Homo sapiens: one gene and its partners. The protein of the gene in region 6 purifies or fractionates together with the protein of the main gene of each other region. This does not show direct contact. Each region holds a gene or a part of one and is shown on either strand. Other genes may lie near its edges.

Evidence for each region.
Region 1: the proteins of FAM131B (region 6) and BLTP3A purify together in Homo sapiens (affinity purification with mass spectrometry; 2 studies listed by BioGRID and IntAct, with this or other methods). This does not show direct contact.
Region 2: the proteins of FAM131B (region 6) and SLC25A14 purify together in Homo sapiens (affinity purification with mass spectrometry; one large-scale study listed by BioGRID and IntAct). This does not show direct contact.
Region 3: the proteins of FAM131B (region 6) and ARFGEF2 purify together in Homo sapiens (affinity purification with mass spectrometry; 2 studies listed by BioGRID and IntAct, with this or other methods). This does not show direct contact.
Region 4: the proteins of FAM131B (region 6) and GNPAT purify together in Homo sapiens (affinity purification with mass spectrometry; 2 studies listed by BioGRID and IntAct, with this or other methods). This does not show direct contact.
Region 5: the proteins of FAM131B (region 6) and CACHD1 purify together in Homo sapiens (affinity purification with mass spectrometry; 2 studies listed by BioGRID and IntAct, with this or other methods). This does not show direct contact.
Region 7: the proteins of FAM131B (region 6) and MYO9B purify together in Homo sapiens (affinity purification with mass spectrometry; one large-scale study listed by BioGRID and IntAct). This does not show direct contact.

The regions. Positions count from the first base shown.
Region 1 is NC_000006.12:34,858,083-34,861,582, reverse strand, and holds part of BLTP3A (bridge-like lipid transfer protein family member 3A), read right to left. Parts: intron 3,460-3,500; coding exon 2,012-3,459; intron 1-2,011. UniProt on the Homo sapiens protein: Tube-forming lipid transport protein which probably mediates the transfer of lipids between membranes at organelle contact sites. May be involved in the retrograde traffic of vesicle clusters in the endocytic pathway to the Golgi complex.
Region 2 is NC_000023.11:130,363,919-130,367,418, reverse strand, and holds part of SLC25A14 (brain mitochondrial carrier protein 1 isoform 1 precursor), read right to left. Parts: intron 2,792-3,500; coding exon 2,667-2,791; exon of another isoform or gene 1,879-2,666; coding exon 1,743-1,878; intron 1-1,742. UniProt on the Homo sapiens protein: Transports inorganic anions (sulfate, sulfite, thiosulfate and phosphate) and, to a lesser extent, a variety of dicarboxylates (e.g. malonate, malate and citramalate) and, even more so, aspartate and glutamate and tricarboxylates.
Region 3 is NC_000020.11:48,966,711-48,970,210, reverse strand, and holds part of ARFGEF2 (brefeldin A-inhibited guanine nucleotide-exchange protein 2), read right to left. Parts: intron 1,065-3,500; coding exon 934-1,064; intron 1-933. UniProt on the Homo sapiens protein: Promotes guanine-nucleotide exchange on ARF1 and ARF3 and to a lower extent on ARF5 and ARF6. Promotes the activation of ARF1/ARF5/ARF6 through replacement of GDP with GTP. Involved in the regulation of Golgi vesicular transport.
Region 4 is NC_000001.11:231,247,712-231,251,211, reverse strand, and holds part of GNPAT (dihydroxyacetone phosphate acyltransferase), read right to left. Parts: intron 252-3,500; coding exon 69-251; intron 1-68. UniProt on the Homo sapiens protein: Dihydroxyacetonephosphate acyltransferase catalyzing the first step in the biosynthesis of plasmalogens, a subset of phospholipids that differ from other glycerolipids by having an alkyl chain attached through a vinyl ether linkage at the sn-1 position of the glycerol backbone, and which unique physical properties have an impact on various aspects of cell signaling and membrane biology.
Region 5 is NC_000001.11:64,676,129-64,679,628, reverse strand, and holds part of CACHD1 (VWFA and cache domain-containing protein 1 isoform 1 precursor), read right to left. Parts: intron 2,735-3,500; coding exon 2,618-2,734; intron 1,471-2,617; coding exon 1,319-1,470; intron 35-1,318; coding exon 1-34. UniProt on the Homo sapiens protein: May regulate voltage-dependent calcium channels.
Region 6 is NC_000007.14:143,356,307-143,359,713, forward strand, and holds part of FAM131B (protein FAM131B), read right to left. Parts: exon of another isoform or gene 3,244-3,407; intron 3,213-3,243; exon of another isoform or gene 3,114-3,212; coding exon 3,020-3,113; intron 2,719-3,019; coding exon 2,521-2,718; intron 1,118-2,520; coding exon 974-1,117; intron 717-973; coding exon 244-716; 3' UTR 1-243.
Region 7 is NC_000019.10:17,204,777-17,208,276, reverse strand, and holds part of MYO9B (unconventional myosin-IXb), read right to left. Parts: intron 3,015-3,500; coding exon 2,941-3,014; intron 2,318-2,940; coding exon 2,125-2,317; intron 2,030-2,124; coding exon 1,901-2,029; intron 1,599-1,900; coding exon 1,493-1,598; intron 1,165-1,492; coding exon 1,033-1,164; intron 1-1,032. UniProt on the Homo sapiens protein: Myosins are actin-based motor molecules with ATPase activity. Unconventional myosins serve in intracellular movements. Binds actin with high affinity both in the absence and presence of ATP and its mechanochemical activity is inhibited by calcium ions.

The DNA of each region.
Region 1 (3,500 bases), on a different chromosome or scaffold from region 6:
ATACAAAGATTGGAAGAAAATACACCCAAATGTAAACAGTGGTTATCTGTGGATTGTTACAAGTGATTTTTATATTTTCTTCTTTACTCTCTTATTTCCTACACTGTCAACACGATAAACACAAACCATTTTTATAATTTAAAAAATTAAAATTATAGGCCAGGCACAGTGGCTCACACCTGTAATCCCAGCATTTTGGGAGGCTGAGGTGGGTGAATCGCTTGAGCCCAAGAGTTTGAGACTAGCCTGGGCAACATGGCAAAACCCCATCTCTACCAAAAATACAAAAATTAGCTGGGCGTGGTGGCGCATGCCTGTGGTCCCAGCTACTCAGGAGGCTGAGGCAGGAGGATCACTTGAACCTGGGAGGTCGAGGCTGCAGTGAGCAGAGATCGCACCACTGGGCAACAGAATGAGACCTGTCTCAAAAAAAAAAAATTAAAAATTAAAATTATGACAAAAGTGATCAGAATATGGACAGCCTAGCCCTGTGGAGTATTTACACCTATAGGATAAAAGGAAGAAGAGAGCAGCCAAGGAAAAAGAAGACTCCTTCAGAGAATTGAGAGTAACTGGGTGGGGTTACAAATATTCAGAATGAACTGATCAGCAATGTTAACTACCATAGAGGAGTCCAGGAGAAGGGGGACTGAGGAAAGGCCACGGGCTTGGGCAGTTAGGAAGTCACTGTTGATGTTTTAAAAGGGCTCATTTCACACACCTTTCTTTTCTCTTTTTCACCTCTGCTCTTTTTCCATCTCCCTTACTTGTCTCCATTTAGAAAAGGCAGCACATTGGGTGATTAGAAGTCCAGGCTTTTAATCCTTGCCCCACCACTCACAAGTTGTGTGATCTTGTGCAAGTTTCTTACCTCTCTGAGCCTCAGTTTCCTCATCTGTGAGATGGGGATTGATATTAATACTTGCCTTATAGGGCTATTATAAAAATCCAGTGGACCAATATTATAAGTACTTAGGACTGTGTCTTGTCAGGCAAAGAAGGCACTCAGTAAATGTTGGCTAGTATTATTATACAACTCGACCCTTGAAGTTTTCCTCTCCTTCCTCCTTGCTGTCTGTCCTAGCAGGTACTAGCTCACCCACAGGCATTAGAGACCCACTTAAGATAATTCACTTAGACAAAAGCTCTAAATGCACTGTTTTTATACCATGGTCTCTAAACCACAAAGTGTTCCAGGAAAGACTTCCCTTAGACTCTATCTTTCCTAAAACCATGAGGCACCCATGGGAAAATCGATACTTTTCCACTCGTCTCACTGTGCATTTCTGTGTTTTCCTGTTTACTCCCTACTCTATCTCTGGCGCTTAACACAGAGCCCAGCACACAGAAAGCGCTCACAAGATACTTGCTGAATGGATGAAATTCTTCCTTCTCTATTACTCTGACAGACACTGATAAGGTACCAGAAAAAACAAGTCCAAAGCCACAACTTTTCTATTTACAAGATATAGGATATCTATGAGCTCATCCTCTCTAAAGCCTCAGTTTTCTCAGCTATAAACTGGGGGTACAAATGTCTGAGGCCACCTTACCAGGCTGCTGTGGGGATCAAATCAAACAAAAAAATTAGATGAAAGCCCACTGAAAATAATATTATATATATGCCATTATTATTATTCTGATATAGCATATTTGTATCAATAATTGTGAAGCAAGCTGGGTACAGTGGCAGGTGTCTATAATCCCAGCTACTCAGGAAGCCAAGGCAGGAGGATTGCAGAGCCCAGCAGTTCAAGACCAGCCTGGCTAACACGGTAAGGCCTGTCTTGAGGGGAAAAAATAGTGAATCAGTGAAAAAGGAGATAATCTGATTCTAAGAAGCAATAAATATTGGCTTGAAAACTGCCCATTAAATAGGCCATTCTATGCATTCTCCTGGACTATATGGTACTTCCCAATCTAGAAATGCACATAGTAAGAGGCCTTAAACCCAATGATCAGAACTAGGAGAAGGAGATGGGATGAGTGAAGGAGGTACAGAGCCACTTACTTGGCTGGGGGCAGGGACAACATCTTGTGCATGGTGGAGGTCATTCGATCTCTGCCCAAACTGAAGGCATCCTTAGTCAGGGACACAGCTTCCTTGGTGAGGTCCATGGTGGCATGTAGAGCCTCCTTGGTGGCATCCTTGGTCATGTGAATAGCACTTGACAATTCTCCCTCAATGTTCTTCAAGGGGATGAGCTCACCCTGTCCATTCACAGCAGTCTCCCTGCCAGCTGGGGGCTTCAATGCAGCTGGTGAGCTGGAGGCTTGGGTTCTGCTCAGTTTCTTGGCCTGTAGGGACTCTACTGCCTCATGGCCCTTCCCTGCCAGCTGCTGGGCAAGTGGACCTGAGTCCTGCAGTTCTCCATTGCTATGTGGCCTCTCCTGGGATACATCCTGATTTTCAATGCTACTTTCCTCCAAGACCTTCTCAGGGCTTGCTGGGCCCTGGTCTGATGAGGCATCAGACTTCAGTTCCCGATCCTCTGAAGGAGATAGCTCTGAATCTACGAGGCTAGTGCTATCTGAGCCTGCAGAGTCAGCATCGACAGCACCGGGTGCAGGATGCATAAGCAGAGCCACTTCAGCACTGGGAAAGAGAACTCCAATGCAAGCTGTCTGATTCTGCAGGGGAGACCCAGTCATTGACTCTGTATCCTTAGTCAGCTGCTCCTGAAGCCTCTGCAGCACCTCCTTCAGGCGAAGCAGAGCCAAGTACTGGTAGTGGTCAAGCCTCACGCGGACATGGGCCGGGGAATGTACAAGCATATGAACATCTGCTACATCCTCCAGCTCTGTCAGAGGCCCTTTGTTGTCCATACCACTACTGCCTTCTTTCAGAATTTCCATGACTTCTGTAAGTCCTGATAAGCTTTTCAAGTCATGTTCAGTCTTTGACCGCGGATGGGACATAGAGTCAGGGGCAAGAGCCTCAGACTGGACAGGACTTCCAAAACTGGCTGATGGTTTCAGCCTCCCCTCTGAGGCCAAAAGAAGCTTCCGTGCCTGGGCTTGCTGCCAGCGGAGGGGTAGGCAGGCCCAAATGGACAGGGGGAAGGGGGCTACAAAATTCAAGGTATGGCCTTTGAAGTTTTCTGTTCCCTCAAAGTCCAAGGAGATCTGGGTAAAGTGGACAGACCAGAGATCCCAGGAAGCCTTAGGTCTCTGGGGAGGGAGGGTATTAGGCTGAGGCAGGCAGGAATCCATCTGAAAGGCATGATGCAAAAAAAGCATGTGCAGAAGGCTAAAGCCACCTGGAACCTTAGGAAAGTGATCATAATTGGAATGAAAGAACTCAGCAGCAGCAAAACCCCGGAAGAGACTCTGGAGGTCTGAACAACTACAATGTGGAGCATGACGTGTATTGGTGGCAATCATGCCTGACGCAGAGAAGACAAGGGCCTGGGGACGATGCAACTCTGCCCGCTCTCTCTTTTCCAGTGGAAAGCTCACCTTCACAGAGAAAATGAAACACAATTCAGAATGGTCATCTG
Region 2 (3,500 bases), on a different chromosome or scaffold from region 6:
AAGACGTGCTCCTCTTGTGATGCCTCTGTCAATGAATGTCACCACCTGGTCACCAACTCCAAAAACCCAGAACTTATCTTTGACACCTCTTTTCTCCCACACCCCTCCACATCCAGTCAATCAAATCCTGCTGACTCTATCAACTAATTCTTTCTTGACTCTGTCCCACCTTCTATATCTCCATTATCATGCTCAAGTTCAGGCCTTCATCCCCTCTTTCTCAGATTACAAGAGCCTTCTAATCAGCTTCCCTATCTGTAGGTCAGTGGTTCTCCAAGTGTGGTCTCCAGACTAGCAACATCAGTATTGCCTGGGAATTTATTAAAAATGCAAATTTCCAGGTCCCACTCCATACTTACTAAATCAGAATCTGGAGATGGCTCCAAGTGAACTGCAGTTTAACAAGCCCTCCAGGTAATTCTGATGCATGTTAAACTTTGAAGAACCATGGCTCCAGGCTTATCCCCTTAGTAGTCTTCAACCTTAGGTGAACATTGCAGTCACCTGATATAGTTTAAAATATTGACACCTGGACCTTACTCCCCAGGTTCTGAGTTAATTGGTCTAAGGTAGAGGAGGGAGCTGCGAAAGTTCTCCCAAGTGATTCCAATGTGTACCCAAGATGAGGAACCACTGTGGTAGATCCAGTCTCCATAAAGCCAAAGTAATCTATTTAAAATGCAAAGCTAATCTGATTAAAAACTTTCAACAGCTCCCTGACAAGTTAAAAAAAAGTCCAAGCACCTCAATATAGCATTCAGTATCCTTTATAATCTAACCCTTGGCCACCAATATGAGGAAAGCACCATAGTGGAGAGGTAAATGTCAGTTTGAGGTCAAGTGATCTGAGTTTAAATTCCAGTTCTCCCACTTAGTAGCTGTGAAACCTTAGGCAGCTTACTTAATCTTTCAGTGCTTCAGTGTCTACCTCGTGGAGTAATGGTGAGGATTCAATGAACGAATACACATAAGTCTCATAAGGACAGTTGCTGACACACAAAAAAGCACTCAGTGGATATGAGTTATTGTTATTCAAGATGCCACCATCTACAGGGAGCCTACCTCAATGCTTCCAAATTGAGAACTCTTGAGTTTATCACTTATCAGGCTGTACTGATGATCCGTTTGTATACCTATAGTACTTTTGTAATAACTGTAATTTCTCTCTAACTACTAAAATGGTGTCTAATATGTAATAGTTGTTAAACAAAACTGATAACAGGAGAGAAACCATATGGCAACATCATATTTTAGCCTCAATTTGTTTTCAGTAGCAATAATATCACCAGTAATGATGTAATACTTTTAGAATATTCAGTTCCCACAAACACAACAGCAGGAACTTTCAAAGCCAAAGTGAACAACAGCATAACCGTGAACTGAAATAAAATACAGGCTTTTTTCCTTAAGTATTGAGTTTTCTATTGCAGGGTCTCTGTGTTGTATGAAGTAGGCAAATGGGGGATATATTGTCTTTTCTATCAATAATTCTACATGATACTATTAATAAAAGCATCCTGTATTTTAAAGCATTCAAATGGGAATCATTATATTAAGTACCACTGCAAATTAGCAGATTGCTAAGGAGACAGCTTTTCTACCTGGGAATAACTGAGAAGCTACTAAAAAAATATGATTCTTTCATCTTCAAAATGGTATGTAGCAACTAATAATAAGAACTGAAGGAAGGTCTAAGACATCAAAGAAAGCCAAATTGTAACCCAAATCCACAATGTACTTACCTTTAAAATACCATCAACAGTGCCCTTATAGAGATCCACATGTCCCACGATTGCCCTCTGGTTCATCATGCGAGTTCGAACCACATCAACCGGGTTGGAGGCCAGAGCCCCAGCCAAACCACATGTAAAGCTGGAACTAAGAGGAAAAGTTTAAGTAGATCGACCCCACTTTCACTCCCTGCCCACTTAAACAGAAATTAGGCCAAACGTAAACTGTACAATATAACTCAGACCCATCAGATAAAACCTGGCACTTGGCCTTTCGTTACAATCTAAAGAGACAGGAAATTTTTCTAAAGAGACATCATTCAAAGGCTGTCCCTTCAATTTTCAATCTGAAACTCAGCCTTTTTTTTAAAGGAGAGTTTCTAAACCTAACAAGATTCCTAAGTAGAAAGTATCATGCACCATGTATTAGTTACATAAATTTTTCAAACCACAGCATCACATGCCAAATGCATTTGAGTAACAAAATTATCATAAAGGTTGCAAGACAAAGAAAATGTAAAATGAGATCAGTAACAGTCTTTAGCCAAAAAACTGTGCTTTAGTTTCACAGACCTTATTTACCCCTTTTTTTCTGATTCCCACTGAGAAAAGTTTGCTTTCTCAAACAAAATTAACCAAAGCAAATAATAGATGTGCTTATTAGATATAGAAGCTATGTATGGATAAATGTAAATCAAATAGACCTCTGATAGGCTGCTGTATTAGACAATGTTCCCAAGTACCCAAGCCCCCATAGCACCTGGCATTTCTGTGAAGTATAAAGTGTTCATAAGGCTTGAAGTTCTGATAATAGGAGAGACAAGGGAATTTAGGCCATACGTACCAGTTATCAAATTCCACCTGAGGATTTCAGTAAAAGAGGCTTTTTGTGCTCAAAATGCTGGAAATAAAATGAGCACATCCCATCCTACTTACACGAAGTGAGTTAAAATTGTATCGCCCATCATTCCTGACAATATTAAATGCTTCTTAGTAATATCATAGACTGGTAGCTCTACTCCTACAACGATGGCAGCACGCTGAGCAGTTGGAACCACACCCTACGAAACACAAGTGACATTAGGCACCAAGGAAATACAAAGGGAGTGATGTCTTAGAGTGAACAAAATAGGTCAGGAGTTGAAAAGTAACAGAAAAATACAAGTCTGAAGTACAGACGTCACTCTTTCAAATCAATGACTAATAATGGAACATATACAAATTTCCAATTCACTTGCTATACTAAAAATAAAATAATTGATATGACACCCAAAGCACAAAAGACAAAAGAAAAAAAAAAGATCAACTGGACTTCATCACAATTAAAAACTTTTATGACTCAAAAGACACCACTCAGAAAGTGAAGAGTCAACATACACAAAGGAAAAAAACATTTGCCGCTCATATATCTGATAAGGGACTAGTGTCAAGAATATATAAATAACTCTTACAACAAAAAAGGCAAACAATCCAATTTTAAAATGGCCAAAAGACCTGAAGATATTTCCTTCAAAAAAGATACACAAATGGCCAATAAGCACACGAAAAGATGCTAAACATCATTAGTCACTAGAGAAATGCAAATCAAAACCACAAGGACATACCACTTCATACCTACTAGGATGGCTATAACGATTTTTCTTTTAAGTAAAAGAAGGCCAGGCACAGGGGCTCATGCCTGTAATCCCAGCACTTTGAGAGGGTGAGGCAGGAGGATCACTTGAGGAGGAGTTCTAGACAAACCTGGGCAATACAGTAAGACTCTATCTC
Region 3 (3,500 bases), on a different chromosome or scaffold from region 6:
CCCGAGTGGCTGGGATTACAGGCATGTACTAGCATACCCAGCTAATTTTTGTATTTTTAGTAGAAGTGGGGTTTCATCTTGTTGGCCAGGCTGGTCTCGAACTCCTGGCCTCAAGTGATCCACCCGCCTTGGCCTCCCAGAGTGCTGGGATTATAGGTGTGAGCCACCGCACCCAGCCTATTTTCCTAATACCTATCACAGTATTAGCAGCATTAGTAATAGATGAATTGAGGATTATTATTAATGACTAATGACAGGAACAATAGAGATAATTTATAAAGTACAAGGCCCCATGCTCAGGACAACACCGATATTTCATTTAATCAATCCTGTAAGATGATTTTCCATATTCCCATTTTTCAGATGAGGCTTGGCAAGTCATATAGCCAAGGAACTGCTCTCAAGTGGAGGATCCAAGATCTAAATGCAGCTCTCTCTGGCTCTGAAGCCTCTGCTTTCTTCACTCCACAGCGCTGACATCCTTGTAGTAGTTTGTTTACTACAAAGAAATGTTTGGCTTCCCTGTGTCGAATCTGGGGCTTACATCTGTATCGATGAAGCAGAGGTTTCCAACAGAACAGGGAACTGAGGTTTGCAGGCATCCTGTCCCTCCACACCCCACATCAAGAGATTCAATCCACTAGCTAGTAAAAATGTGTTTTTTATGTGTTCAATAAACAGACTTTTTTAGCATTCATATGCCAAGAAAAGCAAAACTGGGCAAAATCTTGGTTGGTGGGGATACAGAGACAATTCCATATGAAAGGACTCTAGAGACTGCATGAGTCTGAAAAGTTGTAAAACCGTTCCTGCACTTACACTGACAAAGAGACATGACACTGAAACTTCTTGGAACAAGGGAAGTGTGAAACACAGTACCATGTGCTGCTGGATCATTGGACTGAAGGTGGCCAAGAACTGCTGTCTGCTTACTTTGGGTCTGGAGGGCCTTCACCAAGGGGTTTCATGGACAGCTTGCACAGGGAGCGGAACACAAGGAAGGCATCCTTCTGCAGAACGTGGGAGAACCTGGCAGCCACTTGATGTCCTTGTGCATCCGATTCCTAGGATCAGAAACAAACATCAGCTGGGTGTGGTGGCACCCACCTGTAGTCCCAGCTACTCCAGAGGCTGAGGCAGGAGGATCCACTGAGCCGAGGAGGTCAAGGCTGCAGTAAGCCATGATGGCACCATTGCACTCCAATCTGGGGAACATAGTGAGACCGTATCTCAAAAAATAAAAAGGGAGAGGACAAAACAAAAGCTAACTCTTATCAAAAATTAGAAATGTAATTATCTCTTGGAAATTCAAATTCTTCTATTTAATAGAGAGATGAGGGATGTGGGGGAGGGAAGGATATGACAAAATAGGAGCTATGGAGAAGCCATCACAGCAATTCTACAACCTTGTTCCTTGTTCTTCAGAGTTGGTATGGGTGGTTTAAAATGAAAAATGATCAAAAGTTAAGCTGTAAAAAAACCAAAACTAATACAGGTAATTATACTAGCTTGGGTAAGAAAGATATTTCTAAGAATACTATTGTAAGCCAGGTGCGATGAATGGCTCACGCCTGTAATCCCAACACTTTGGGAGGCCAAGGTGGGCAGATCAGTTCAGGTAAGGAGTTCCAGACCAACTTGGCCAACATAGTGAAACCTCATCTCTGCTAATCCCAGCTTCTTGGGAGGCTAAGACAGGAGAATCGCTTGAACCTGGGAGGTAAAGGTTGCAGTGAGCCGAGATCGCGGCACTGCACTCCAGCCTGGGTGACCAAAAAAAAAAAGTAAAAAAAAGAATACTATTGCAACTATTGCAGGATAAACGGGTAACAAAGTATAGGTATTACGAAATAAACTTTTTTCACCTAAAAAAAAGGTAAATTACATTTAAAAGCAAAACATAAAAATAAAATTTTTTGGCCAGGCACGGTGGCTCACGCCTGTAATCCCAGCACTTTGGGAGGCTGAGGCGGGCGAATCACGAGGTCAGGAGATCGAGATCATCCTGGCTAACACGGTGAAACCCCGTCTCTACTAAAAATACAAAAAATTAGCCAGGCGTGGTGGTGGGCACCTGTAGTCCCAGCTACTCAAGAGGCTAAGGCAGGAGAATGGCATGAACCTGGGAGGCAGAGCTTGCAGTGAGCCAAGATTGCGCCACTGCACTCCAGCCTGGGCAACAGAGCGAGACTCCAACTCAAAAAAATAAAATAAAAATTTTAAAAACATATAATAAAGATTAATATCCCCCACATATAAAAGTTCTCATAATTCATTAAGGAAATATGAAAACCTTCCTCCAAAATGAAAACAACATGGATAAGCAATGTACCAATAGATGCAAATGATAAAGAAATCTAAATGACCTTATTACTCATCATTAGAGTAGGAGCTTTCTCCTATCAGACTAGCAAAGATTTGAATAAAGGCTGCTGCCTAGTTTTAATGAGGGAATGGGAAAATGGGTATTGAGAGATTAAAGGTGGACAGGTATTCAAGTAGTACCTTCCCAGAAGACTGACTTGGTGTTAAATGTCAAAAGCCTTAACACTTCCAACTCCCACTCTCTTTCATTCATTTACTTATGAGACATGATCTTGCTACAGTTATTTATTTATGAGATGGGGTCTCGCTATGTTCCCCTGGCTAGACTTCTGGGCTCAAGCGATCCTCCAGCCTCAGCCTCCTGAGTAGCTGGGAATACAGAAGCATGCTATTACACTCAGCTAAAACTTCCAACTCTTGAACCATCAATACTACTTGCAGGCATTTATTCCTAAGAAAGAATTAAGAGTTATCTATAAGGATATTCATTATAGAACCATTTCCTATGATAAAACTGGAATAATCTAAAAACCCAATAGGGAATTGGTTAATAGATTACAGTGATCCATACAGAATTTTACATGGCCATTAAAAATTTCTGTTAGCTCTACATATACTGACAGGGGAAGATGCCCATCATATAGTGTTGAGTAAACAAAGCAAATTGCAGCTTAGCATATAACACGAGTCCCTTGTATAGATTTAAGCGCATCCTCAAGGGGGGAAAAAAACATTATTCTGGTTGGATACAGTGGCTCAAGCCTGTAAACCCAGCACTTTGGGAAGCTGAGGTGGGCAGATTGCTTGAGCCTAGTTCAAGATCACCCTGGGCAATATAGTGAGACCATGTCTCTACAAATAATAATAAAAAATTAGCCAGGTATGGTGGTGCATGCCTGTAGTCCCAGATACTCAGGGGGCTGAAGTGGCAGGATCATTTGAGCCCAGGAAGTGAAGGCTGCAGTGAGTCGAGATCACACCACTGCACTCTAGCCTAGGTGAGAGTGAGACTGTGTCTCAAACAAACAACAAGAACAACAAACCCTTATTATTTTTATGTATAAAGCACAGATATACATGTAGCATATGGATATCCAGTTTATTGCTGGCATTACAACTTAATGGGGAATGATGATTAGGAAAAAATGTCTACAAAGTTTTCTTGGAGGAAGGGG
Region 4 (3,500 bases), on a different chromosome or scaffold from region 6:
AAGTTATAGAATTAAGAACTTGTTGACAATGAACAAATCTGGCCATGGTTGAAGAGGGAATCACTTACCTGTTTAATGACATAATGAATCTCCTCAGAATTGAGAACACTACATTTAATATCAATTGGTTTACATGGAGTAATTCCCTTATAGACAAGAGGTGTGTAGCATTTCATTGCAAATTTCAAGTCACTGACATGCCTCCTCTCTTCTAAAATATCTTCAAACTCATCCCACTTTTTGAGCTCCTTCTGTGGATAAGGCAAGAAAGTAATGAGCACATACTGTAAAATAAATCAGGACAGATTAAAGACTACATTGGTAAGGTTTCATCTTTGACAAAATATTACTCTATGACGTGAACAGGAGCAGAGTGTTCTGATGTTAGATTTTCATATAGTAAAAAAAAGAGATGTAAAGAAAATTAGGATCAATAAATTGATACTGAGTTATCATAATATTTTATTATATTTCTGATTGCTATCATTGTCAGTATCTCTTTGGGAAATTTAATGAAGACAGCAAAGATGAGACATTAAGCCCTAGAGTAATCTGATCAACTTCACATGGTTTCACCTGCCACACTGACAAACCTGTTCCATTTGCCTCTACTTAGCTTTAAAAATTACATTAAAACAAACATTTGAAACCCAAATTATATAAAATAAAACAAAACTATATGGGTGCAAATAAAAGGAAAAATCATTCAAGAAACAAGCGCTCCAATAAAAGGTACTGTTGAGCAGTATATGGCTGTGATAACTTTCTTTTCTTCTTTTCGAGACAAGAGCTTATTCTCTTGCTCAGGCTGGAGTACAGTGCCACCATTATATAGCTCACTACAGCCTTGAACTCCTAAAGCAATCCTCCCTCCTGCCTCAGCCTCTCGAGTAGCTAGGATTACAAGTGCATACCACCAAGCCCAGTTAATTCTTAATTTTTTTTGTAGAGACAGTCTTGGCTGGGCATGGTGGCTCATGCCTGTAATTCCAGCACTTTGGGAGGCTAATCTCAATCCTCCACACTTCAAGCAGGATTGCTTGAAGCCGGGCATTCAAGACCAGCCTGGGCAACATAGCAAGACCCCATCTCTACAAAATAAAATAATAATAATAATAATAATAATAATAAAGAGGTACAGTCTTGCTCTGTTGCCCAGGCTGGTCTCAAACTCCTGGCTCAAGCAATCCTCCCACCTTGGTCTCCCAAAGTGCTGGGATTACAGGTGTGAGCTATTGTGCCTGGCCTGTGACAAATTTTTTATTTCTTATTCAGCCCCTGCCATTCAGCTTCTATCCAACCAGCCCCTGAAACTGCTCTTTACACGTCTACCAATGACTTCTGATTTGTTAATTTTTTAAAAAGTACTTTTCTGATTACAAAAGTAGTAGTAATGATAATAATTAAAGCTAACACGTATAACTGCTTACAAAGAGTCAGGACACTTGTCATATGTGCTGACACTAAAGTGTTAGGCGCATTCTAAATGCTTTAGAGGCTTAGGCACCACTCCTCTATGAAAGCTCTCCCAGAGTCCCGAATGGAATCATTCATATTTTCCCTGTCACTTCTTTTCCCACTAACTACACCTATTATGGTATGTATCCCACAACACTGTAATTGTATGCATGTCTGTCTCCCTACTAAAATGAAATTATCTCGAAGGTAGGAAAGTTCATTTTCTCTTTGTATTTCCAACATCTGGTTTTATTTGGAATATAGCATAATTGGTCAATAACTGAACTCAATAACTGAAAGATGAAATGTTGAGGTAATAGAAGAAAATACAGAATGTTAACTGAGACCACAATTTGGCATAAGAATATAAGTGGCAGCAAATAGCATTTATGAGGAGTTTATAAAAGGGTGGCAGGTGAAACATACAAACATGAACATTTTTATGTCCATATATAGAGAGACTATATGAAGGAAAGGTCTTTTCACTGTTGGAGTTCTCATGTAAAGTTGCAACCCTTGTAATAAATACTCTTGCTTATAAGGCTGGAAAACCTTCTCAAATCCCACATTTCTCATTAATAAATATATAGTTGTATCAGTTTGCGCTCTATAGACTGCAGCCAACTACCATTATATCATTTTAGGGCTTAAAAACAAGAACTTCCCATTTAGTGGTCCTGGGAGTGGAAGGAGAAAAGGATCAGAATCAGCTGGGGATATATGTATACACATATACAGTCATGCACTGTTTAACAACAGAGATACACTCTGAGAAATGCATTGGTAGGCAATTTCATCATTGTACAAACATCACAGAGTGTGTTTACACAAACTCAGATGGTATAGCCTACTACATACCTAGGCTATATATAGTATAGTGGTTAGCCTATTGCTCCTAGGCTACAAACCTGTACAGCATGTTACTGTACTGAATGCTATAAGTGATTGTAACACAATGGTACAAATTTACACATATAAACACAAAAAAGATACAGCAAAAATACGATATTATAATCTTATGGGACCACCATCATATACTGACTAAAACGTTGTTATGCATCATGTGACTCTGTGTGTGTTTGTGTGTGTGTTTATACGTATATATAGCTGACCCTTAAACAACACACATTTGAACTGCACAGGTCTACTTACATGAGGATTTTTACATTTAAGTTTTTTTTTTTTTCAATAGAGACGGGGGTCTTGCTATGTTGCCCAAGCTGGTCTGAAACTCCTGAGCTCAAATTATCTTCCCACCTTGGCCTCCCAAAGCGCTGGATTACAGGCGTGAACCACCACGCCTGGCCTATATGAGGATTTTCTGCTTCTGCCACTCCTGAGAGGGCAAATCCAACCCCTCCTCTTCCTCCTCCTCCTCAGCCTACTCGATGTGAAGTGATGAGGATGAAGTGGATTAATGACGATCCACTCCCACTTGATGAATAGTAAATATATTTTCTCTTATGATTTTCTTAGTAACATTTTCTTTTCTCTAGCATACTTTATTAAGAATACAGTACATAATACACATAACATATAAAATAAGCCTTAATGAATTGCTTATGTTATCAGCTAGGTCAACAGTAGGTTACTACTAATGAAACTTTTGGAGAGTCAAGAGTTATTGTGAATTTTCGACTGTGCAGAGGGTTGGTGCCCCCAACTCCCACGTTGTTCAAAGGTCAACTGTACATATATAAACACAGACATGTATGGGAGCGAGGGAGTCTTCAGGATAAGAACCCCTAAGGGAAACTAGCAGGCATGTATACTTTGAAAAAGCTTGCCAAATACGATCATCTACAATCCTTCCGTGGTTCTGTTACTTGCAAGGTGGACTTACATCAAGTCCACCTGTCTTAGCATATGACCCCAGGCTCTTCATGACCCCCCACCTCCTGCCTCATGACCATTCCTCTTAATCCAATAGTCCAGCTATGCCAAGACCTGCAGTTCCCTAAACACACTACGTGTTCCCAGATCTCTGATTCAAGTTGCTCCCTCTACAGAATAGCATTCATTCTCAAATATCTGAATGCCTA
Region 5 (3,500 bases), on a different chromosome or scaffold from region 6:
CTTTTAATCATGTTTAATGTGATCACCTCATCACCTTCAGTGAAAGAGCAAGAAGATGTTTCTTGTTAAGATTTCCCAAGTGGGGAAGAAAGTAAGGATGGTGAGATGGGAGGGAATACAGTGGGAAGGGGGTTGGCGGAAGATAAACAGATGCTTAGTTAGGCTTTGAGTTCCTCAAACATGACGCATGGGAACGTGGGAGCGGAGGCTACATTTAATTCCTGGTTCTCCAGTGTTGGTTGCTAGGCAGAGCAGGAGCACAAATGGCAAGGACTGCTGGGAAGAGTGAGCAGACCAGAAGAATTGCTTACACAGGCAGCATCCAACACCAACAGAGTCCTAGCTCCCTGGGGTATGAGTTACTCTTGGAAGAGAGGAAAAGTCACCTAGTACAGAGTAACCACTGAAATAAAAGGCACCAGGTCCAATAAATATGCGCTAACCGGATCAAGTTTCGAAGCTTATGGGTTTCCTTTAAAAGGCCATTTGTGCTTTCCAGATAGGAAACTGCAGGTGAGCATAGAAAGTGATTTCTCAGAGCCAAGTCACTTTCACATATGTACCCTCACCTAGTTCAGCAGTAACATACAAGCTCAAAATCCTTCCCCACATATGAGCTTTTCTTCTAGACAGGCTGATGTAAGTGATGTTAAAAATCAAGGTATTAACTAAGGATTTAAATATTTGACTCTACTGCCATCTAAGAATTAGGCCTTGGTGCTAATTCTGGAAAGACTGAAAAAAAAAATCTCAGGTAAGCAATCTAATCTTGGCAGTATTTTTGAGGTCTTGGAGACTGATCCCAGGGGCTGTCCACCCTGTGGTGTCCTTGTGCTTCATCCTAAGCTGTCCCAGATGCACTGGGTAGCTCTGGCTTCTGTTGACTCCAAGGCCCCAAATACTGATTTGTAGCTATAAGACTTCTACCTTGCAAAAGTTGTGAGTGAAGGTTTTAGCAGGCACTAGACATACAGTGGTCACTCCGTACACGGCCCTGTGCTTCTGACAGCTGGCGTGCATATCCAAACAGACTCCAGAGTTTGGCCATGCAGAAACCAGTCCTTATATTTATCAGAACAAGCTTTATGGGAATGAATTCCAGGCTTGTAAAATTTGGCAGCACAGATGGCCACTCACTCTCTCTGCATAGAATATTTAGCCAGTTCTGAAGGTAATTATCTGCCTTGGTTTTGTAACTAAAGACTACCAGCAAAGGAATCAGGGAAGTTGGGAAGAGGATTATTTTAAGATGTCCTAGCATATAGGCAGGAAATTGTATATTCAAGAATCAAATTGTTGGGGCATCTAACAAACATACCTATTGCTCCCATGTCATCAACGTAGGGACTTTTGGCTCCCACAATCCCCCCGAAGCATTCTTTCTGGGGGGCACAGTAGGGTTTGTCCAGGTGAGTCTTTCCATCACTGTCCACCATGCACCATTCACAATCCAGCACCCCAAAACAGTCCCTGCCAGAAAAACAATACTTAGTCTTCTATAAAGCAGTGTGGGGCAGGGGACAGCACTTAAGTGTGGGCATCAGACAGTTCTCAGGATCTCCATTACTTACTAGTGCTGTGAATTTCTTGAGCTTTAGTTTCCTTTCCTTATAAAATGAGAATAGCAATAGACTGCCAGGGAAATAACTGTTTTATGCCTCTTAACAACTTGGAAAGGAGAGAAATAAAACTGCTCTCTGTGAATTAAATAATGACATCCACACATCATGGGGCTATTCAAAATCATCTTACAAGACCAAACAGAAATGACCCCAATGTTTGTTAGACTCTGGCTTAACATCCCCCAAGTGTGGGGTCATTTAAAAAAATAAAAAAAAAAGTCCAATAAGTTTGGAAATACTTGGCCAGTCACCACAGGTTTCCTCACTGCCAATTTCTCAGAGCCTTTAGTGTATTACATGCATTGTGACTGTCTCAAGAGAATATATGCAGTGTCAGCATTTCCCAAACTTAATTGACTTGGGGCTACTGTATAACATCCCAAATTAATCAGTTTGATGCCACAATTCCTTTGCTAAAATACACACGCAAAGCAGAGTAAGCTATCCCTCTAAACACTGTTTAATAAAATGGCAAGCTACAGCTACAATAAGCTAAAAACCAACTCCCCTTTACTTAGTCTACCACAGCCACTATTTCCATAATGTCTAGTCCCAAACTCCTAATCCCACCTGAGGAGTGGGGAGAGAGCGGGGAACATGTAGTTTTTAGTTCTCAAAACTATCATGAAGCAGATGTGTTTCCTAAGAAAGGAAAATAAATGAGCTTCAAAATATCACACCTAGAGCCTTGACCACTGGGTTCTGCTTCTGGACCTCAGGGGTTCCTCCTCCCTTGCCCTGCTGCTTCATGCCATGGCCCCTCACAAGTCTTTTATTTCAAGAAAAACTCCCATTCACAGATGAGGCTACTAACATATGGTACACACGCTAAATACGGGTAATAAGTGGGAACGAGACAACATTTAATCTGGTGGGTAAAGGCTTATGGAAATCAGTTTCAGATCTGAAAAACTGACATACCTTTTTAAAACACGAAGAGTAGGAATAATAAATATTAGCTGGAAAACCTCAATTCTTTACTAGATTCTGCTTACCCACTTTCCAGCCTCTGACTGCACCTGCTGTTGACACACTGGTGAAGAGCATCTTGCAGGCCAGGGTCAATAGCTGTGTATGTCACCGGCTCCTGGTGGACCTCGCAGCTGGGGTTTCTGTGCAGGAGGTAAGTCTGGAGGTTAAGACGACCACCGCCCACATTCCAAACTCATGCTCCTGGTCCTTAACAGCAGTCAGACAGATTTGGGTTTGAATCCTGGCTTTGCCACTTAGTGTGTAACCTTGTATCAATCACTTAACAACTCTGAGCTTCAATTTACTTATCTTTATATACAGTAGAAGTAATACAAATAACCTAGGCAACATGATGAAACCTCATCTCTACGAAAAGTACTACTACAGCAACAAAATTTAGACAGGCTTGGGAATCACATGCCTGCAGTCCCAGCTACGAGGGAGGTAGAAAGGTGGGAGGATTGCTTGAGCTTTGGAGGTAGAGGTTGCAGTGAGCCATGATCGCGCCACTGCACTCCATCCTGAGCAACAGAGTGAGACCATGTCTCAACAAACAATTATACACACACAATACAAACACACATGACACTCTTAATTTCTAGAGAAGGGGTTTATTACAATTTATTTTCCTGGTGTTAAAATCTGTCACTGATATAAATAATGCTGTAGAACACATCATACGTGTGTAAAAAACACTTGCATATTTATCACAGGGTTAATTAGAACACTAAGTGACTTAATGTGCATAACGTACTCAACACATGGTAGACACTTAGTAAATGCTTGAAACATTCTCACATTTTTTTGTATGTAGCACATACACTCTTAATACTTTTACAGCAGTTAAATTTAAACCTTGAAACAGGCATCATTTTATGGCACTACGGAGCTTGAATTCTGGCTCAC
Region 6 (3,407 bases):
CAGCCACACCAAGCTCACGGCCATCTAGTTGCCCAGGTCTCAGTTCCCAGGCCTGTGGGTTTCTAGAGTGTAAGCCTGGATAAAATCCCATCCTGGTCCTCCATTTCCAGGAGAGGACTGGAAGCTCCTGGGTTCCCCAATGTTGTCTGCCCAGTTTCAGCTGTACTGCTGGGGGGAGGGAGGGTATGGGTCACAGCCATGGCCCTCAGGTGGGAGTGGAAGGCAGGGCATTGGGGGAGGAAACTAGTTGTTGGCCTCGCCTTCCTCCTCATCAAAGGACTGCACACCTGAGGATGTGACGTCAGACACCTTCCGGCTGAGAGCGGTAGACATCTCAGGGTCTTCTCGTGGGGAAAGTGACTCCAGGTCCCGGCATCCCGCATCCTCTTCCTCCTCAGGTGCCAATGGCCTCTTCTCCTCCTCAGCAGGGCCCCTTGCCAGGTCCACTGCGCCTACCCCCGGAGCCCAGTCAGTGTCTCCCCCCAGCAAAGGTGGAGGCTCCAGAGCAGAGTATCCTGAAGCTGGTTGGGAAGGTCCCATTTCATGCAAGCTGGGTTGTGAGTCATCAAATGCAGGCCCAAGATAGGATCCTGTGGCCGGAGAGGCAATGAGGGACTGATCGCTGGCTTCCCAGGCATCTGACGACCCCAGACAGTACATACCCTGGGACACGTAAGAGTGAGGCCATCCATCCATGGGTGCTTGAGCCAGGGCATCTGGAAAAAGAATCATGGAGGTCAGTGGGGCCACAGAATGTCAAGGGCAGGAATGACAGCACAGACAGCACAAGAGACAGCTAAGAGACAGCACAGAGAACTGGCAGTAAGACACAGAGTGCACAGTGAGTAGGGAGGACAATGGGAAAGCTGAGATGGACAAGGAAGTCTTAAAAGAACGGAGCTGAGTGGAGGCAGCTGAGATAGTTGGGGAGGCCTCATAGGCTCCAGAGTTTGGATTCTGGAACATCTCTCACCCTGACTGTCCATCAGTTCCTGGTAGTTGTCACTGTAGTTGCAGCCCAATGGCTCCTGGGTGGAGTTCACACTCATGTCCTCACCATCCATGGAAGACCAGGCCATGAGTGTGGCCTCAGAGATAGCAAACTGCTCCATGACGCCTGGGGGAAGAAATGCAACAACCACAAAATACCTCAGGGAATCCTTAGACATGTGCGTGGGGTAGGAAAACATCTTAGTGCAGCACTGTTCAGTAGAAATATAATGCAAGCCACTTATATCATTTTAAATTTTCCAGTAGCCACATTTAAAATTAAAAAGAAACAGGTTAAATCAATTGAAATAATAGATCTTATTTAATTCGATATATAAAAAGATTTTCATCTCAACATATAATCAAAATAAAAGTTATTAATGAGATATTTTACATTCTTTTATTTATATGAAGCCTTTGAGATCCAGCTGGTATTTTATACTTATAAGCACATCTCCATTCAGAAGAGCCACATTTCAAGTTCTCAATAACCACATGAGGCCAGTGGCTAATGTATTGGACAGCACAGCCTTTGTGTATGTCCCCAGAGAAGGGAGAATTGTAGGGGACTTCCTAAAAAATCAGATTTAGGATTCCTAGGGGAAAGAGTTAGGGGTCTTCTGATGAGATATCCTAAGAGATTCAAATTCGAGATTTCCAGATATTTATCTTTGGAGGTTTTTAGGAATTGCAGTCTAGAGAGTAGATTTCAAGATCAACAGAGAACCCCCAAGAGAGCATCGTGGGCTTGTGGGTCCACCATAATATAAAACTGAAATTCAAGGGATTGGAAGGAAAAGGGGATGGGTAGACCTGGGGATCCCTATTCTAGTCAAATCCATGAGCGTGTTGAAGCTGGTACTGCTCCTGCCCCCCACCCTACATGTTTGTCACCCTGTTCACTGATATTTCTCCTCCCACCCATACCACCAACTCAATACTTCCTTTCTCTTCCAGACCTATCCCTTTCTAGGCATCTTATTTAGACCTGCACTACAGCTTGGCCACTCTTGTAGGCACACTGCATGCCTGTTATCAGACCTACACTACTTTCCTGGAACTAAACCTCTTCTGTAGGCCTCCCGTCTCTCACACAGTTCCCTTAATCTTCTAGTGGTTGTCACAAGTAATGAGTCTAGTAGGCAAATTCATGACTCGAAATGCTAAAGGGCAAAGGCTAAAAGAGATCCCCAAGGCCTTTCTTTCTTTCAAAGACCAAGGTCTCCCCATTTTTTTCCCTGCACTTGAGGGAGTTCAGGTTTGGATAGTCCCGTGATGAGGAGAGAAGGCATCTGGGATGGGTGGACCCACAAATCCCATCTAATTACACGCATTTTCTGAGATGATTATAAAAATATGTTTGAGGGCACTTATTTGAATTACCACATCAAAATACTTAGAGCTGTTTGGGAAATGTGAATCTACGGTCAAAGTATGGATGGAGCTAATCCTGCCACAGGGGATCAGGTTGGAGGGTCGGTCCCTGGCCATCCTGCAAATGTGTCTCTTGAGGCTTTAGGGTACCTGTACCTGCTAGAAAACGTGCCTCCTTCTCGCCATCGCTGAGGTCGGAGTAGGCATCCGTATCCCTGCGCACGGACTCATGGCTGTGTTGTGGCTGAACAGCTGGTGTCTTCCCCCAGCCCTGCCACTCAATCATGTGGGCCACCCGGCCTTGCCCCATGGCTGTGGGCTTTGTCACATGGTCCTTCATGCTCCGTGAGATCCCTATGGGGCCAGACATTTCCCACATCCTCCAGAATATCACACAATACCCATAACCAGACCCTCCCAGTTCCTCCCACCCCAGCCCCATGAGGCTCCATCCCACTGGGCCAGGCTCCCCTAAGGACTCCATAGATGGGGTAGTGGAGGGAATGGCCTGGAGGATGGGAGGCTTGACAGAAGGGTGAATAGGTCAGGGGGTGGGGATGAGGGTCTTCATCAACCTCGAAGGAGCAGGGAGACTGAGCCAAGGAGTCTGTCAGCATTATTTTGTCTGAAGGCATTCTTACATCAGGAGTCTCACCTGAGAATGATGACTTGGCCAGGGCCCCAATGCCATAGGCGTTAGAGTTTCGCTTAAGCTTCGGAAGAATGGAAGTGGTGTCCTCCATGGAGAGCTGGGATGGGAATGTGGGAGGAAGGGCAGAGGAATAAGAAGGTACGGGCGTGCTTTATACATGGAGGAGGTTCATGGTTTCCAGGAAAAAGCATTCGAGCTAGGGCAGATGATAAGAAAAGCTACTATACCCAAGAGTCCCAAGGAGGGATATATCCCCAGTGCTCTGGAAAACTGGGGCACAGGTTGAGAACGTGAGTGCTCACAGTGCCTATTGGAGCCAGGGAATACCGTGCTGGTTGGAAGGTGCAAGGGAGAAGATGAGGAGGAGGAGTTCGGGAGGATGGGGAGGTCT
Region 7 (3,500 bases), on a different chromosome or scaffold from region 6:
ACCTCCACCTCCTGGGTTCAAGCAATTATCCTGCCTCAGCCTCCCGAGTAGCTGGGATTACAGGCGCCTGCCACCACACCTGGCTAGTTTATATATATATTTTTTATTTTTTTAAATTTTCTTTTTGAGACGGAGTCTCACTCTGTTGCCCAGCTGGAGTGCAGTGGTGCGATCTCAGCTCAATGTAGCCTCCACCTCCCAGTAGCTGGCATTATAGGCACATGCCACCAGGCCTGGCTAATTTTTGTATTTTGTTTTTTTTTTTTGAGATAGAGTTTCGCTTTTGTTGCCCAGGCTGGAGTGCAATGGCATGATCTCAGCTCACTGCAACCTCCGCCTCCTGGATTCAAGTGATTCTCCTGCCTCAGCCTCCCAAGTAGCTGGGATTACAGGCATGCGCCACCACGCCCGGCTAATTTTGCATTTTTAGTAGAGACAGGATTTCTCCATGTTGGTCAGGCTCGTCTCGAACTCCCGACCGCAGGTCATCTGCCCGTCTCGGTCTCCCAAAGTGCTGGATTACAGGCGTGAGCCACCTCGTCCAGCCTAATTTTTGTATTTTTAATAGAGATGGGGTCTCACCATGTTGGTCAGGCTGGTCTCAAACTCCTGGCTTCAAGTGATCCACCCACCTCGCCCTCCCAAAGTGCTGGGATTACAGGTGTGAGCCACCACGCCTGGCCTAATTTTTAAATTTTTTGTAGAGACAAAAATTTAAATTTTTATATTTAAATAAAAATTTGAATTTAAAAATTTAAATTTGGAAATTTAAATTTTTATATTTAAATACAAATTTCCAATTTCAAATTTTTTGTAGGGTCTTGCTATGTTGCCCAGGCTGGTCTCGAACTCCTGGCCTCAAGTGATCCTCTTGCCTTGGCCTCCCAAAGTAGCTAGGATTACAGGTGTGAACCGCTGCACTCGGCTCTGGACTTTTCTTACACATTTATTTACACAGGGATGGATGGAGCTGTCGTGGGGTCCTGGGTGGGGCTGCCCTGAGCATGCCTCCGGGGCAGGGTGGGCACTCACGTGGTGATCTTGAGGACGTCCTTCATGCTGGTCAGCGGGTCCGAGTTGTCAGGGCAGCGCAGGAGGCAGGGTGCGAAGATAATGGCCAGCGCCCCAGGTGACATGCGGTTGACATCCTCGAGCAGGGCCACCCTGCACAGCCACTGGCAGTTAGAGGATGGCTAGGGCCGAGGGAGGGAGGTACCAGGGAGCCCCGAGACTGAACTTCTGAGCCCTGGGGTGGCTGTTGGGAAAGCAGTGCCACAGCCCAGCACTGGGAGATGCTTCCGCAGCACAGAGAGGTACCTCAAGGGACCCGGGCGGCCCAGCAGCCTGGCCCCCTCCCAGAACCCCCAACAGTGGTCTGCATCCTGGTTCGAAACCACCACAGAACGCCAGCTCGGGTCCTCCTGGGAAATGCTGCCTCGCGGGTTCCCAATGCGACCCTAACCCCACAGAGGGCAGGTGGGGAGGCACTTGCTTGACAAGGTGGAAGATGAGTCTCTCCAGGGAGTTGTGGTTGGCTTCTGGAAGGTGCTCCAGGACGGCATAGATGGCAGCCAGCTGCTCCTGCTTCTCCGGCAGCTCTGCAGGCAGTGGGGTTTGAGGACGTCAGCTCCCAAGGGTCCCCAAGGTGCCTGTTGTCCCCACCAACACGACCTGAGATGCACAGGTGCCATCCACCCTGTGGTGCCCAGGCAAGAATGGATGGCTACAGAGGTGTCCTGGCCCCACCCCAAACTGGGGACCCGGTTTGGCTGGGCCGACTGCTTTGGGCCTCAGTTTCTCAGTTTGTGAACTGGGTGGTCCTGCCTCCTGGGCTGGTCACAGCGAACGCTGTATCCTGGCTGTGGCCACCTGCTGCCACCCGCACCGCCATGGGGCTCACCGACGGCTCGGAGGAAGTCGCCGTACTGTGCGAAGGTCATGAGGGGCTCGGGCAGCTCCCGCAGCCACTGCTTCAGCACCCCTGTGATGGCGTGGATGGGGAAGTTCTCCAGCTTGACTGCTGCGGGGTCTGTGGGGTGGGTGGGGTGGGTCTGGTGAGCGGCGCACTGGCAGGACGGCTGTGCCTGGGGCCTGGCACTGCACCCACCTGCCCACAGCGCCCACCTGTCTGCAGCGCCTGCCGGAGCTCCCGAGTGCGGTTGGCAGCACCCGACTTGCGGTAGAGGCCCTCGGTGTACAGGCCGTGCATCTCCACGTGTTCCAGGAGCTTCTCCAGCACGATGGGCACCGAGGCCTTGTCGCTGGTCAGGCTGTCTACGCACACGCCGAAGTGGCCAGGCTCAACGCCTGGCTCGCCCTGCAGTGCCGGGGTTGGGGGTCAGGTCTGGGCCTGGCTGTCTTCCTCTCCAGCTGTCTCTGGGGGCCTCTGCCTCCTGGTCCCGCACAAGGCCCTCAGGGCTTCCTCTGCTGTTCTGTCCCTCCCTGTCTCCTTCTGCGTGGTTGTTGGGGGTGTGGGGCTGCAGAAGTCAAGGCCAGCATGGCAGCCACTGGGCAGGGGCTTCCTTTGTAGGCCACCCAAGGCATGGGTGGTCCTTCGTGGGGAGAGAGCTATAACCTAGCCCCCACAGCCACCTCACAGAAGTAGACCCTGACTCTTGCTGCACCCCCAGCACCCAGGACCCCAACCTTATGCACAGAGTTGGGGGGCCTCCCTCTGCATGGCTCAGGACTCTCTCAGGAGCAAGGATGAGCAGGGCTGGGGGAGCTGAGACACACACACAGGCCTGGGCCCTGCCTGAGGGCCTCAAGGAGTTTGTACAGAACCGGGGACAATGGTGTGTTCTGCAGAACCAGAGGCCACAGCCGCCCCCTACTGGCTGCTCAATGCTTCGCTTGGCCCTCACATCAAGCACCACCTCCTGGTGCACCTGGCCGTGAGTGGAGTGTCATTGTAGAAAGTTCCAGGCCTCGTACACTCACCTTCCTCCCGTAGGTGTAGGAGCAGTGGCTCTGAATCTTGTGCACGCACTTCTTGTGGCAGGTCATCTTGCACACTAGGAGGTCCACAGGGTGGGAGTCACAGAGGGTGCTGGGGACCCCAGATTCCTGCAGCCACCCACCCAGCTGGCCGGGGGCCGCCAATTGCCTTCTTTTTTTTTTTTTTTTGAGATGGAGTCTCACTCTTGTTCTCAGGCTAGAGCGCAATGGCGTGATCTCGGCTCACTGCAACCTCCGCCTCCCGGGTTCAAGTGATTCTCCTGCCTCGGCCTCCCGAGTAGCTGGGATTACAGGTGTGCGCCACCACGCCTGGCTAATTTTGTATTTTTAGTAGCGACAGGGTTTCTCCATGCTGGTCAGGCTGGTCTCGAACTACCGACCTCAGGTGATCTGCCCACCTCGGCCTCCCAAAGTGTTGGGATTAGAGGCGTAAGCCACTGCACCTGGCCTGGATTGCCTTCTTTTTGGTTTCTCTTTTTCTTTTTGAGACAGGGTCTCACTCTGTCACCCAGGCTAGAGTGCAGTGGCACTATCATAGCTCA